Linked DNA regions of Homo sapiens. The protein of the gene in region 3 interacts with the protein of the main gene of each other region in a biochemical or structural test. Each region holds a gene or a part of one and is shown on either strand. Other genes may lie near its edges.

Region 1 (3,747 bases), on a different chromosome or scaffold from region 3:
TTTTTGTCTTTGTCCTTCTTCTTTTGCTCTGAGGCCTCCTTCTTGCCTTTCTGCTCCCGCCTATATGCTGTAAGGACGGAACAAGGGGTTAGGAGACAGAGCTGAAAGTGAGCCAGACGGACTGCAGGAGCTAATTACATTGTACAATTGGAAAAACGGAGGCAGATGGGCGCGGTGGCTCACGCCTGTAATCCCAGCACTTTGGGAGGCTGAGACGGGCGGATCACCTGAGGTCAGGAGTTCAAGACCAGCCTGGCCAATATGGTGAAACCCCGTCTCTACAAAAATAAAAAATGAGCCGCACGTGGTGGCGTGCGCCTGTAGTCCCAGCTACTCGGGAGGCTGAGGCAGGAGAATTGCTTGAACCCAGGAGGAGGAGACTGCGGTGAGCTGAGATCCCATCACTGCACTCCAGCTTGGGTGACAGAGCAAGACTCCGTCTCAAAAAAAAAAAAAAAAAAACAAAAACAAGAAAAGCAAGACAAAAACAAAAACGGAGGCAGAGAAGGAAAAATAACTTGCTCAGCATTACAAAACAGATCTGAGGTGGTGCCCACCGAACTGGGTCGAGTCACATCAAGTGCTGGCTTACTGGACTTAAAGGGACCCGCGCTGAGAAGGCTCAGGGCCTGGTGAACAGGTCACACAGGATGACCATCTTCTATGTGGTTTAGAAGACAAGAGGCTCGTTACCTTCCAGAGCTTCTTTCAATGGGGTAACGAACCGCTGGAACTCCATCTCTTCCATGGCTGAGAGCACATCACTGGCATTCAGCGTCTTCCGCTTTCCTTTCATTGCAAAGTTGTTAGCACTGAGAGAAGAGAAAGGCTGTCAGACTCCCTCTTGTTTGTAAGGCGTGAGTGGGAAAAGGAGCACCCAGAGGTGGAACGGGAAAGCCTGCCTCTTACATGTATGGATTTTGGTGTGACAGGGATAAGTCCTTCCCTTCTCTGCACAAAAAAGCTAAAGCAAAGTGATTTTGTTGTGTTATTTTGCTTCAGAACTTGTAAAAACTGGCAGAGGACTGTGAACATGTCCCCACCGAGGGAGAACACAATCGTTGGGGTTTGTAGGCTCCCAGCCAGCAACTCCCAGCCAGGTATCCCCGCGCCTCCCTTATGCCTCTGTCCCGCTCACCAGGATGTGGCGTACAGCACGAAGACGCTGGCGGCGCGGGAGATGGCGCTCCGGGCCTCCTTGGAGATGTTGACACCGTCCGGGAGCTGCGAGGAGACCGGGGGTGAGCAAAGCTGCCGTTCCAGCACCTGCTTCCCTCCTGCCCGTTCGTCCGCCCCCCCCGAGCTGCTCACCGCCTCCTTGATGATCCTGGTGATCACGGCATTGGGCAGGTTTAGGTCCTCGGGCCTCTCCGCCATTGCCGCCGCTGGGGCTTAAACTCCCCTTCGCCTCCGCTTCAGGGAGCTACTGCGTCCGGACTTCCCGCGTCGCTACGGTCTGACCCTGCGAGGTTTCCGTTCCGCCCCACGTGGCCTACAGTGTCCCACAGTGCTCTGAGCGCCATAGCCTCCCTCCTCCCCCCACAGCCCCGCCTCCGCCTCAAATACCGGCGCATCCGGATTTTGAAGCCGCAGTGGTTTTGGCCCGCCAAGGCTTCCATCCAACCCTACCGCACCCCGCACGCCCCTCCCCAGGTCCATTTCTCTGCTTCTCGCCATCGCCGCGTCGGGAACCTTCTCACCAACTTATTTGGCTCAATGGAGCTTCCGTCCGTTTCCCATGGTGCCCTGCGCCGCTGCTGGGTGACGGCGCGGCCGGGCGCAGCGCGTGGGAGACGAAGGCGTGGCTGACTCGGCGGGGCGGATCCCTTTAGGACCCGAGGCAGGCTCTGGGCCCGCCGGGTCCGTTAATCTCACCGCGCCGCAAGGGGCCACGTTTTACCACTTGATTTAGCAACCCTAAGCGGTTTGGAATCTGCTTTGCTCTCACAGGACCTCAGCCCGTCGTGATCAGATTCTCCCACTTTCTTTTTTCTTTCCTGGAATGGAGTGGGCAGTCTTTTTCCATCTCTACCGAAGTTGATGTTCATTTTTAATCTTTTCGCCCCTCACGCTTTTGTAATAATGGTACTAAGACTGAGTGTTATTTAGATTTTATTGTTGTTGTTTGTGTTTAACGCGAACTATTTAGGCAGCCCAGGGATAATGCTGGCCATATAGAGATGCGCCTGATTAGGTCTCAGGAGTCAATTCGGACTGGGCAGGTAACGAAAGGGCGAGAAGCAGCCTTTTCACTGTATGAAGAATGCAACGTCACATTCGCTTTCAAAAACAAACCGTGTTAAAATTGTATTTATTTTTCAGTTAAATTGTTCATCATACATTTTTTCCAGTTAAAACCATTCTCAAGGTTTTGCAATGGCGTTTCTTTTTTTTTTTTTTTGAGACAGTCTCACTCTGTCGCCCAGGTTGGAGTGCAGTGGCGCCGATTTCGGCTCACTGCAAGCTCCGCCTCCCGGGTTCACGCCATTCTCCTACCTCAGCCTCCTTAGTAGCTGGGACTACAGACGCCCGCCACCACGCCCGGCTAATTTTTTTGTATTTTTAGTAGAGACAGGGTTTCACCGTGTTAGCCAAGATGGTCTCGATCTCCTGACCTCGTGATCCGCCCGCCTCGGTCTCCCAAAGTGCAGGGATTACAGGCGCCAGTCACCGCGCCCGGCGCAATGGTGTTTTAAGTTGTTTTTAAGTTATTTTTATATTAAGTTCGTAGAAATTCTCACTCCCACTGATTTTATTTATTTTTTAATTTTTAAAATTTCTTGACAGGGTCTCACTCCGTCCCCCAGGCTGGAGTGCAGCGGCACGGTCTCGGCTCACTGTAGCCTCGACCTCCCTGGCTCAGGTGGTCCTCCCACCTCAGCCCCAAATAGCTGGGGCTACAGGTGCGTTCCATCACACCCAGCTAATTTTTTGTATTTTTCGTAGAGACAGGGTTTCACCATGTTGCCCAGGCTGGTCTCGAACTCCAGGGCTCAAGTGATTCTCCCTCGGCCTTGCAAAGTGCTGAGATTACAGGCATGAGCCACGGCGCCCAGCCTCCCACTGAGAATTAATGCTGCTTTTTTTTCCCGTCAAGCATGCAGTCCCAAGTCGCCCTGTAGTTTTCCTGCTTTCGATAGAAGCCTGATTATAGAGAAATATTTTAAAACAAAAGAGCAAATGCTATGATAAATGGCAACTGAAAGTGTTTCAATTAGAGACCATAAGGTCTGGTGGGGGAACTCCGCTTGGATAGAACAGACCTGGCTGAAACCATCAGGGCTGCTCAGCGCTAGTCAGTTGCTCTTCAACTGGAATTGGGCTCAGTGTTGTCAAGTATTTTGGTCCCTAAAAGGACATTGTGGGCTATTTCAATTTTAAAATTGATTCAAATTTAAAATTGATTCAAAGTGCTAGCCAAACAAAACAAGTAATAGGCCAGGTGCAATCCCAGGCTGATAGTTTATCTTTGATCTAAATTATGAAACTGTTTAGAACAGGGAGTTTGTTTATTACTGTTCATGTCCAAAGCAGGTCCCCTCACATATTTAGTAATCAATAAATGTGTTGAATAAAAGAAAGAAATGGACACTGTCCTTAAAAAGTTCTTAGGAATAAGGTGGTAGTTAGTGATTGCCTAAAACACCTCTAGAAAGGAAAAGATGATAATATTTATTGAACACCTCCCATGAATAAAAGTACATTATCTCATTTAATGCTTCTGCAGTCCTACTTAGGGATTCCCTG
Region 2 (3,747 bases), on a different chromosome or scaffold from region 3:
ATTTTAAGATTGTGCCCTTATCCATTCCATATGGCCGGCACGATCCAGGCCAAGCTTTCACTGTGACCTTTTAAAGAGACAAAGAAGCAAAGTACTATCTAGAAACAGAAACACTGCAGTTTTACTGAGTGAAATTAGCAAAACCGACCTGAAACTCACCACTTCAAAACTTGACAGCACATAAATAACAAAAACAAAGGAGATTTCCTTTGCAGCCCGGGTTCTTGAAGAGAAGTTCAAGACTGATGTTTTCTATGTCCTTTTTTTTTTTAATTAAAAAAAAAAAAATAAAAAAGCAGCAGACCTGAAGGCGACTTCCCCTGAAATTGTATTATTTTCCTTTCCCCTACCCCCGCCCCCCTAAGCGGGGGAAGGGCAGAAATAAACGTCTAGAAGAGTAGCCATGAGAAAGGGGTTTAAAAAAAAAATCACAATTCGAAAACCAACATATAGGGGTTTGTAAAATGTCTAACCTCAGAGAACAGGGTTTGCGATGGGGAGGAGGGGAGAGTGGGAAGCAGGGAGGAGGAAGAAGATAAAATTGATCTGACAAGTGATTCGTTGGGGGGAAATCGTAAAAACAAAGCAAAACCCGTTATGAGCTGTACACTGTGATGGTGCTGGGGAAACGACGTGGTGACTGAGGATTCTCTTAAAAAAAAAAAAATCACTGCGGACAAGGTCTCCAAAAAGGAAAAAAGGTCTCTTCGCGTCTCTCCCTCCCTCCTGCTCACTCGGGTTCTTCGGTGTGAGGACAGAAAGTCTACTTCTGGCTGTCACTTGCAATATTATTCTTCAATAACCCCGAATAACGCGCATTGGGAAGGCCACCTCGCCTCCCTTCCAATCACCCCCACCCCCCTCGCCAACAATCGCGACTAATATTAACAAACCTTAAACTTTTCCCCACAGCCTCGCACCCCCAACGAGGGCATCTAGCGGGGGACAGCGAGGGTGGGGGGCAGGGGGTCGCGAGAAAAGCCCCGGAAAGGCACTAAAATGCCACTTTTGATTCTGCCCTCGCTGACAACAGCCGCAAGGACCCTCTCCCTGCCCATTGACGCGGGGCTGTGAGCGTCTGGGGTCCCAGCAAGTGAGGAGAGAAGAGGTTCGGGGGGAGGGGGAGGAGGAGGAAGATCAGAAGGCACCCCCAGCCACCTCCACCGCCTAGGCAGCGACAAACTCCCCGCCCCCTCCCCCCAAAAAGTCGCCAAGCTCTCACTCGTCCAGAGTCCGAGGTAAACAACGAGCACCACAATGGCACTAGGACTTTGGGGGAAAAGAAACCCAGAAACCCCGACAAAACTGATCAGGAGTTTCCCGAAATGAAAGAGGGGGGCGGGCAGCGTCCTCTAGAGTCGCCCTGGCTTTCGGCTGGGCCCCCGGGCAGGATAGAGGGCGGCCGCGGCTGTTGTTGTTGTGACGAGGCCGGGTGTTGCTGGGTGGCACAGGGAGAGGTGTGTGTGTGTTTGTGTGTGTGCGTGAGTGTGAGCGCGAGTCCCCGGACGGGGCTGCTTCTCTCGCTCTCTCCCTCGCTAGCTCTACCCCTCGCTGCCGTCTCTGCCCCCATTAAATTATTAGTTGACTCATCCCGGCCGCTGTCGCTGCCGCCGCCGTGCCCCGCTCGGCTCCGCGCGTCCGCCCGGGCTGCAGCCCTCTCCGCCGCTGCTCCTGCTGCTGCTGCCGCCGCCGCCGCCGCTGCCGCTGTGGGTGCCTCTTCTTCCTCCTCCTCATTTTAATACAAAATCACCCCGCTCGCAGCCCCAGCCCCGAGCACGCAGCCTCCTCCCGGCCGCCCGCCGCCGCCCGGAGCCTTCCCCAGCGGGGCCGGCTCATCCGCCGCGTCCGGGGAACGGGAGCGAGCGAGAAAGTGGCGGCGGCGGCGGCGGCGGCGGAGGAGGAGGAGGGGGGAGGAGAGGAGGAAGGGGGTGCGGAGCCGAGGAGGAAGGCGGCGTGGGGGGGCAGGGTGCACGGAGCGGGCGGAAAAGGGATGGGGATTAAAACCCGGGCTGGAGGGCCGGGATTGGGGGAGGGGGCGGGGGCGGCGAGTTAAAAAGCCGAAAGACAAGTAACTAGTGAATGAGTGAGGGAATGGGGGGAGCGCACGATTTCCGGCCCCGGGCGCGCAAGAATTTGTAATGAGCTTGATTAGAGTGAGGCGGCCCGACATTTATTACACACAATACCCAGAATAACAGGGCGCTGTGCGAGGGCTAGCGCCGGCCGCCGCCAGACGCGCCAGGGAGGGCGCAGAGGGGAGGAGGAGAGGGGGCTTCCCTGGCAGCGTCCGCCGGAGCGGGGAGGGGAGCGCGCGGCGCGCGGGCGGCAGGGGCAGGTGTGTGAGTGGGAGGGAGGAGGGGCAGGACGGGCAGGACGGGCACGGGGGGCGGGGGGAAGGAAAATGACGGGGAGGAGGGGGCGAGGGCCAGGGGAGAAAACTAACCAACCACCCACACGCCACAAAAGCCACAAAAAGGAGTACGCCTGGAGCGTCGCAGAGGGACAGGCGAGGTGGGGGGACAGGGAGACGCACCGGCCCCGTGGGAGAAGGGCGCGGGTACGCAGGTGACAGGCGCTGAGGAATGAGGTAGGGAGCCATCAGGAAGTGGCTGGAGGGGTACAGACGGAAGGCAGTTCTCTCCGGGGAAGCGCGGAGGGTGCAGAAACGTGTACAGCAATAAAGGCCAGGAGCCTCGAAACGCTCGGAATGTTTATCCTCTAAGGAGGGTGGTCCTTAAACTATGAGGAGCCAACATTAGAAAGAACTGAGTAAGAGCGTTCTGTACTAGTCAGACGTTGGTTCAAATCGCCCTCACTTCTGAGCCATAGAATACTTTGGAAGAAGAAATACGTGGCCGAGTTAAACAAAATTTGGGTCACTTGAAAGAGACCTGACTTGTTATTATAAAGGAAAAGATGCCATCATTCTTCAAATAATTTACGCTAGGCAAAAGAGGAAAGTTTGGGTTGGTAAATACATCTGTTGTAGCAATAAACACTTCTGCTGTAATCTAGGGTAGGTTACCCAGTTAGATAAATGGTCATTACCACATAAGTATGATCCTATTATTTAGACAATCTATTAAATATAGTTCATGTAAAAATAAAGAATATTACAATGTAACCCAAAATAGAAATGCCTCATTTATCGCTTAGGTTTTAGTTCTACCATTTTAGCACCCTGAAGGCAGTTAATCATTAACAAAAAACAAGAATTATTTTTCAGAATTTGCTGGTAGGGAAAAGAGAAAAATCAGTCAGATAAACATTTTGTTACACATAAAAAAGCAACAAGTTAGCACAAGTACTGAGATAAAAGGGAAATTTGCAAATTAAGCTCTGTAAAGCCACCAATACACTCTTAGGCACACTGTTTACATTACAAATCTAAAGAAAAGCCAAAAGGTAAAGCAGAAAAGTGTAGGAAATGATGGCCTCCTAGGGGAGAGTAAGTTTAGGAGAAACAAAATGAAAATATATCACTCTAATAGCACCCACGTTTCACCCACAAACCAGAAAGGTTAGCCAAATCTGGGAAGGCAACCGTGAATCTTGGCACACAAACCCAAGCCTTGAGCAAAAGAATGAACATGTGATAAACAGAAAACACAGCATCAAAAATAGGAAAAGAAATTTAAGGCAAATTTTTAGTAAAAAGCCCAAATGATAGTAAATTTTTAAAAGTTAAAATGTGGGGAAATCTGAAGGAAGATATGTTAGCTAAAGTATAAGAAATAGAAATATGGT
Region 3 (3,747 bases):
AATATATTTTAATTTGGAAGTAATCTTATCTTAATCACTCAAAACTACAGGAACTATCAGGAGTTCCTATGTCACTAAACCTACCCTCACCACTAAAAGTTCTTTAAATGATTACTAACATTAATGTTACTTAACCCCAGCTACCCAAATATAACTACTGTGCCAAAAGCCTCAATGGTAAATTACGCTACCATTTTCTTACTGTATAATGATTCTGCATCAAGACTCATCTTCGGAGCAGTATTACTTTCATTCTGTCTAAGGATAGGAAAATCCCAGAAATCTTTGGGCTCCGACTCACAAAATATCTCAAAACAGGTCGAAGGCCAAGAAAATAAAAATTGGAAGGAGCAATTACTTTGTTCCCAGATGCAAAGCCTGGAAGCATATCCAATTTACCCGCCTGGCAGCTTCCCCCATCTTTCCAGCCCCCTCAGTACTGTCAGCATCCCCTGCCCAACCCAAACCCATAAGTCTCGGCAGCGAGTGGTACTAATTTTTTTTTTTCTTAAGGCCAGAGGCCAAAAAGAGAAAAGTGCCGGACTGAGAGCCAACCAACTGCGCCTGGTTCTCTAATTCATTCCTACACTTATTCATCCCCCCTAAATTAGACGGGGGATCCGAGACAGCTGCTGCTGCCTTGGTTGCTTCCCTTCCAGTGGAATAGTGCCTGGGAGGGGCCTTCTCTCCCTTCACAGAAGCAGCTGCGCCCCGCTTATCCCCACTGCGCACTCGGCCATCCAGCTCTCGCCATTGTTTCTGCCCACAACAGATACCGCCCCTGCAAGGACCGGGAAGAAGAAAAGGAGGCCCAAGTCCTCGGACGCGCTGCTTTTAAATGCCTCCTTCACCCCGCCCGTGCATCCCGCTCCTAAGGGGTCATCTCCTCGCCCTTCCCCGAAGTTTGGTGGAAACTAAAAACCACATTCAGAGGTAGGAGAGGGAATTATGGGAGTCTAGTGGGAAAAAAACGATGGGTCCCCCGGGCCACGGTAACCAAGAACATCTGTTCACTGAGAGCGTTCAAATATTTGTCAGGATTCACGAAAGAGACAAATAATTTAAATGTGAGGAGCCAGAAATCCATTTTGCTTAGCTCGAATAGGGTAAGAACAAGGGAGCAAGAGTGAGAGCATCATTTCGTATCCACAGGGTGTGAAGCTGAGTCTGGTGCAGAGAGAGAAACCCGGCTCTGCGTCCGATCGCCACGATCCGGCGAGGGAGCCAGCTCCTCCTCCCCGCTGCACCCGCTCCCCATGCCGCAAGTCGCCCTCACCTCCATCTCGGCGTCTGCGGGACCAGCGCTGGCCGCAGACGCAACCGCCTGCGCCGCGACGCCTTCGGGGCCGCCTTTGTTGCTGCTGTTGCTCCCGCCGCTGGCGATCGAGGCTGCGGGCTTGGAAGGCGCGCTCTCGGGAGGCGGGGGTGGCGGAGGCTCGGCCGCGGACGACATGATGTTCCGTCTGCGTCACCCGCTGCTGCCAGAGGCCCGAGTCCGGCGGGGATGGACGGGGAGGCCTAGGCCTGGATGCTACGTCGCAATAAACTGGTGGAGGAGCGAGACTCCCACCCGAGCGCTCCCCTGCGCCGCGCCTCCGCGACGGGCCTGAGCCGGGCCCAGGAGCTGCACACTCCCAAACGTTCTGCTCTTCCGCGGGGCTCTAGGTTCCACCGGCGCTTACCTCACGGCGGGAATCACGTCGACGAGGGTGGGCGGGGCCAGACGGGTCACTGAGGTCAAGGAAGGCCGGCTGATTTAGAGAAGGGCGGAGGGTTGGGGGAAGGGAAAAGGAAAACGAAAGAGAGACTGAGGCTGGGAAAACGCTTCGCCGCCTCCTCCTCTTCCTCTGGAAGATAACATCTATCTCGCCAGCATCCAGGACGACGACCTACGCCACCGACTTTCAACACTCGCGAGATTCCTTATTGGCTCACTGACTGGGTCCTGAGCGCGCATGCGCATACTGCCCTCCTCACCCTTGGCCCGCCCTCTTCCAGATCTCTAGCCGGCTCGGGAGAGAAGAGTGGGCGGGACCTCCAGGGAGCGCTCGGAGGTGTAGGTTTGTGCGCCTGCTGCTTGGCAGGACGCGAGCTCAGTGTTTTAGGCTTTCGTAACGGCTCACGGTTCTCGCTGTGTCTTCTGTGCCTGACAGGGGTTGGCGGCACTACCGGAAAACTTGTCTGGGTTTTGCGCTGCCCATTCAAACTTGGAAGTCTTGTGTCTGGCCCCAAAACTTCTGCCGTATCCGCTTAGAGGCGTGACGCCACAGCCTTGACGACGTTATGGTTACCCCAAGTGAAGTCTCACGGTTTTTTGTTGTTAGAAAAAAAAAAAAAGTCCGTTAGTGTGATTTTTTTCTTTTTTCTTTTTTTTTTTTTTTGCCTTCTCATGTTAGCTGCGTCGGTTATTTCTAAATACCCTCCTTAGGCACAGAGTTAAATGATATTTCTTCTGAATTTATATGCCAAAGTTAAGCAAATAACGTGCACACTACCATGGAAGTGAGAAACACGAATAATCAATATATGGGGAAGATAGGTGGTGCGATGTAATCTTTTCCCCAAGCATCAAACATGAAAATTAAAACGTACATTCTCCTTAAGTGTTAACAAATATTCAGCACTGATTTTGTATACTGCCTTAGGCAGCCTTCAATGCAGCTTAAGGGCCTTGTGCATTCATCGCCTACAAAATTTAAATACATTGTAGTCTGTTTGATAACGAATCTGCATACTACAGTAGATTACCTGCCCAGTACAGGGTCTTTTTTATCTTTTTTTATTCCTCATATTCAGTATTCTCTAAATGTTTGTTGAGTAAAGGAGACACATTTTTCGAGAGTTGAGGTTTGAGCTAACTGGTTATGTTGAATTCCAAACAGAAGGGATCCCCTTTGAATATATAGCCTGCAAATTTTTTAACTAATGGAATGATAATTCTTAAATGGACATCTGGAAAAATGTCCCCACTCCACTAGAAATGCTAGTTCTTAGACTATAAGGAAATGTCTAAGGATATATGCAAAGATGAATACCTACAATGATGTTCATCATAGTCTTCATATATGACTGCAAAAAGCTAACAACAGTAGGCTGAATCCAGTATTAAAAGTTAGGTGTTTAAAACTGTCATACACCCAGAAAATGAACTATTAACCTTTAACAACCATTAATGTAGAATAATGGTTGTTTTGTGTTGTTTTGTTTTCAGACAGTTTCTGTCGCCCAGGCTGCAGTGCGGTGGCATGATCTCAGCTCACTGCAATCTCCAACTCCCAGGTTCAAAGGATTCTCATGACTTAGCCTCCGGAGTAGCTGGAATTACAGGCGTGCACCACCACGCCTGGCTAATTTTTGTATTTTCAGTAGAGACAGGGTTTTGCTGTTTTGGCCAGGCTAGTCTCAAACTCCTGGTCTCAAGTGATCTGCTCGCCTAGGCCTCCTAAAGTGCTGGGGTTACAGGCGTGAGCCACCGCACCTAGCCAAAGAATGTTAATTTATAAAGTGTTAACTGAAAAATTTGGTTTAACAGTTCAAAAATGTAGATAAAAGTTGGAAGCATATTTACAAAAGTATTGAAACTGATCGTTGCTGGTTTTTTGTTTTTGTTTGTTTGTTTGTTTGTTTTTTGACAGTGGCTTGCCCTGTCTCCTAGGCTGCAGTGCAGTGTCACAGTCGTGACTCACTGCAGCCTCAGCCTCCTGGGGTCCAGCAATTCTCCCACCTCAGCCTCCCAAGTAGCTGGGA

The links.
Region 1: the proteins of SMARCA5 (region 3) and POLE3 form a complex in vitro, tested with the Homo sapiens proteins (2 studies listed by BioGRID).
Region 2: the proteins of SMARCA5 (region 3) and SATB1 form a complex in vitro, tested with the Homo sapiens proteins (one study listed by BioGRID).

The regions. Positions count from the first base shown.
Region 1 is NC_000009.12:113,408,917-113,412,663, forward strand, and holds the start of POLE3 (DNA polymerase epsilon subunit 3), read right to left. Parts: upstream 1,760-3,747; 5' UTR 1,701-1,759; intron 1,493-1,700; 5' UTR 1,378-1,492; coding exon 1,312-1,377; intron 1,225-1,311; coding exon 1,139-1,224; intron 813-1,138; coding exon 694-812; intron 68-693; coding exon 1-67. Other genes in the region: uncharacterized protein C9orf43, read left to right, coding at 2,003-2,007. UniProt on the Homo sapiens protein: Accessory component of the DNA polymerase epsilon complex. Participates in DNA repair and in chromosomal DNA replication.
Region 2 is NC_000003.12:18,423,468-18,427,214, forward strand, and holds the start of SATB1 (DNA-binding protein SATB1), read right to left. Parts: upstream 1,873-3,747; 5' UTR 160-1,872; intron 1-159. UniProt on the Homo sapiens protein: Crucial silencing factor contributing to the initiation of X inactivation mediated by Xist RNA that occurs during embryogenesis and in lymphoma.
Region 3 is NC_000004.12:143,511,631-143,515,377, reverse strand, and holds the start of SMARCA5 (SWI/SNF-related matrix-associated actin-dependent regulator of chromatin subfamily A member 5), read right to left. Parts: upstream 1,677-3,747; 5' UTR 1,454-1,676; coding exon 1,277-1,453; exon of another isoform or gene 1,153-1,276; intron 934-1,152; exon of another isoform or gene 541-933; intron 1-540. UniProt on the Homo sapiens protein: ATPase that possesses intrinsic ATP-dependent nucleosome-remodeling activity.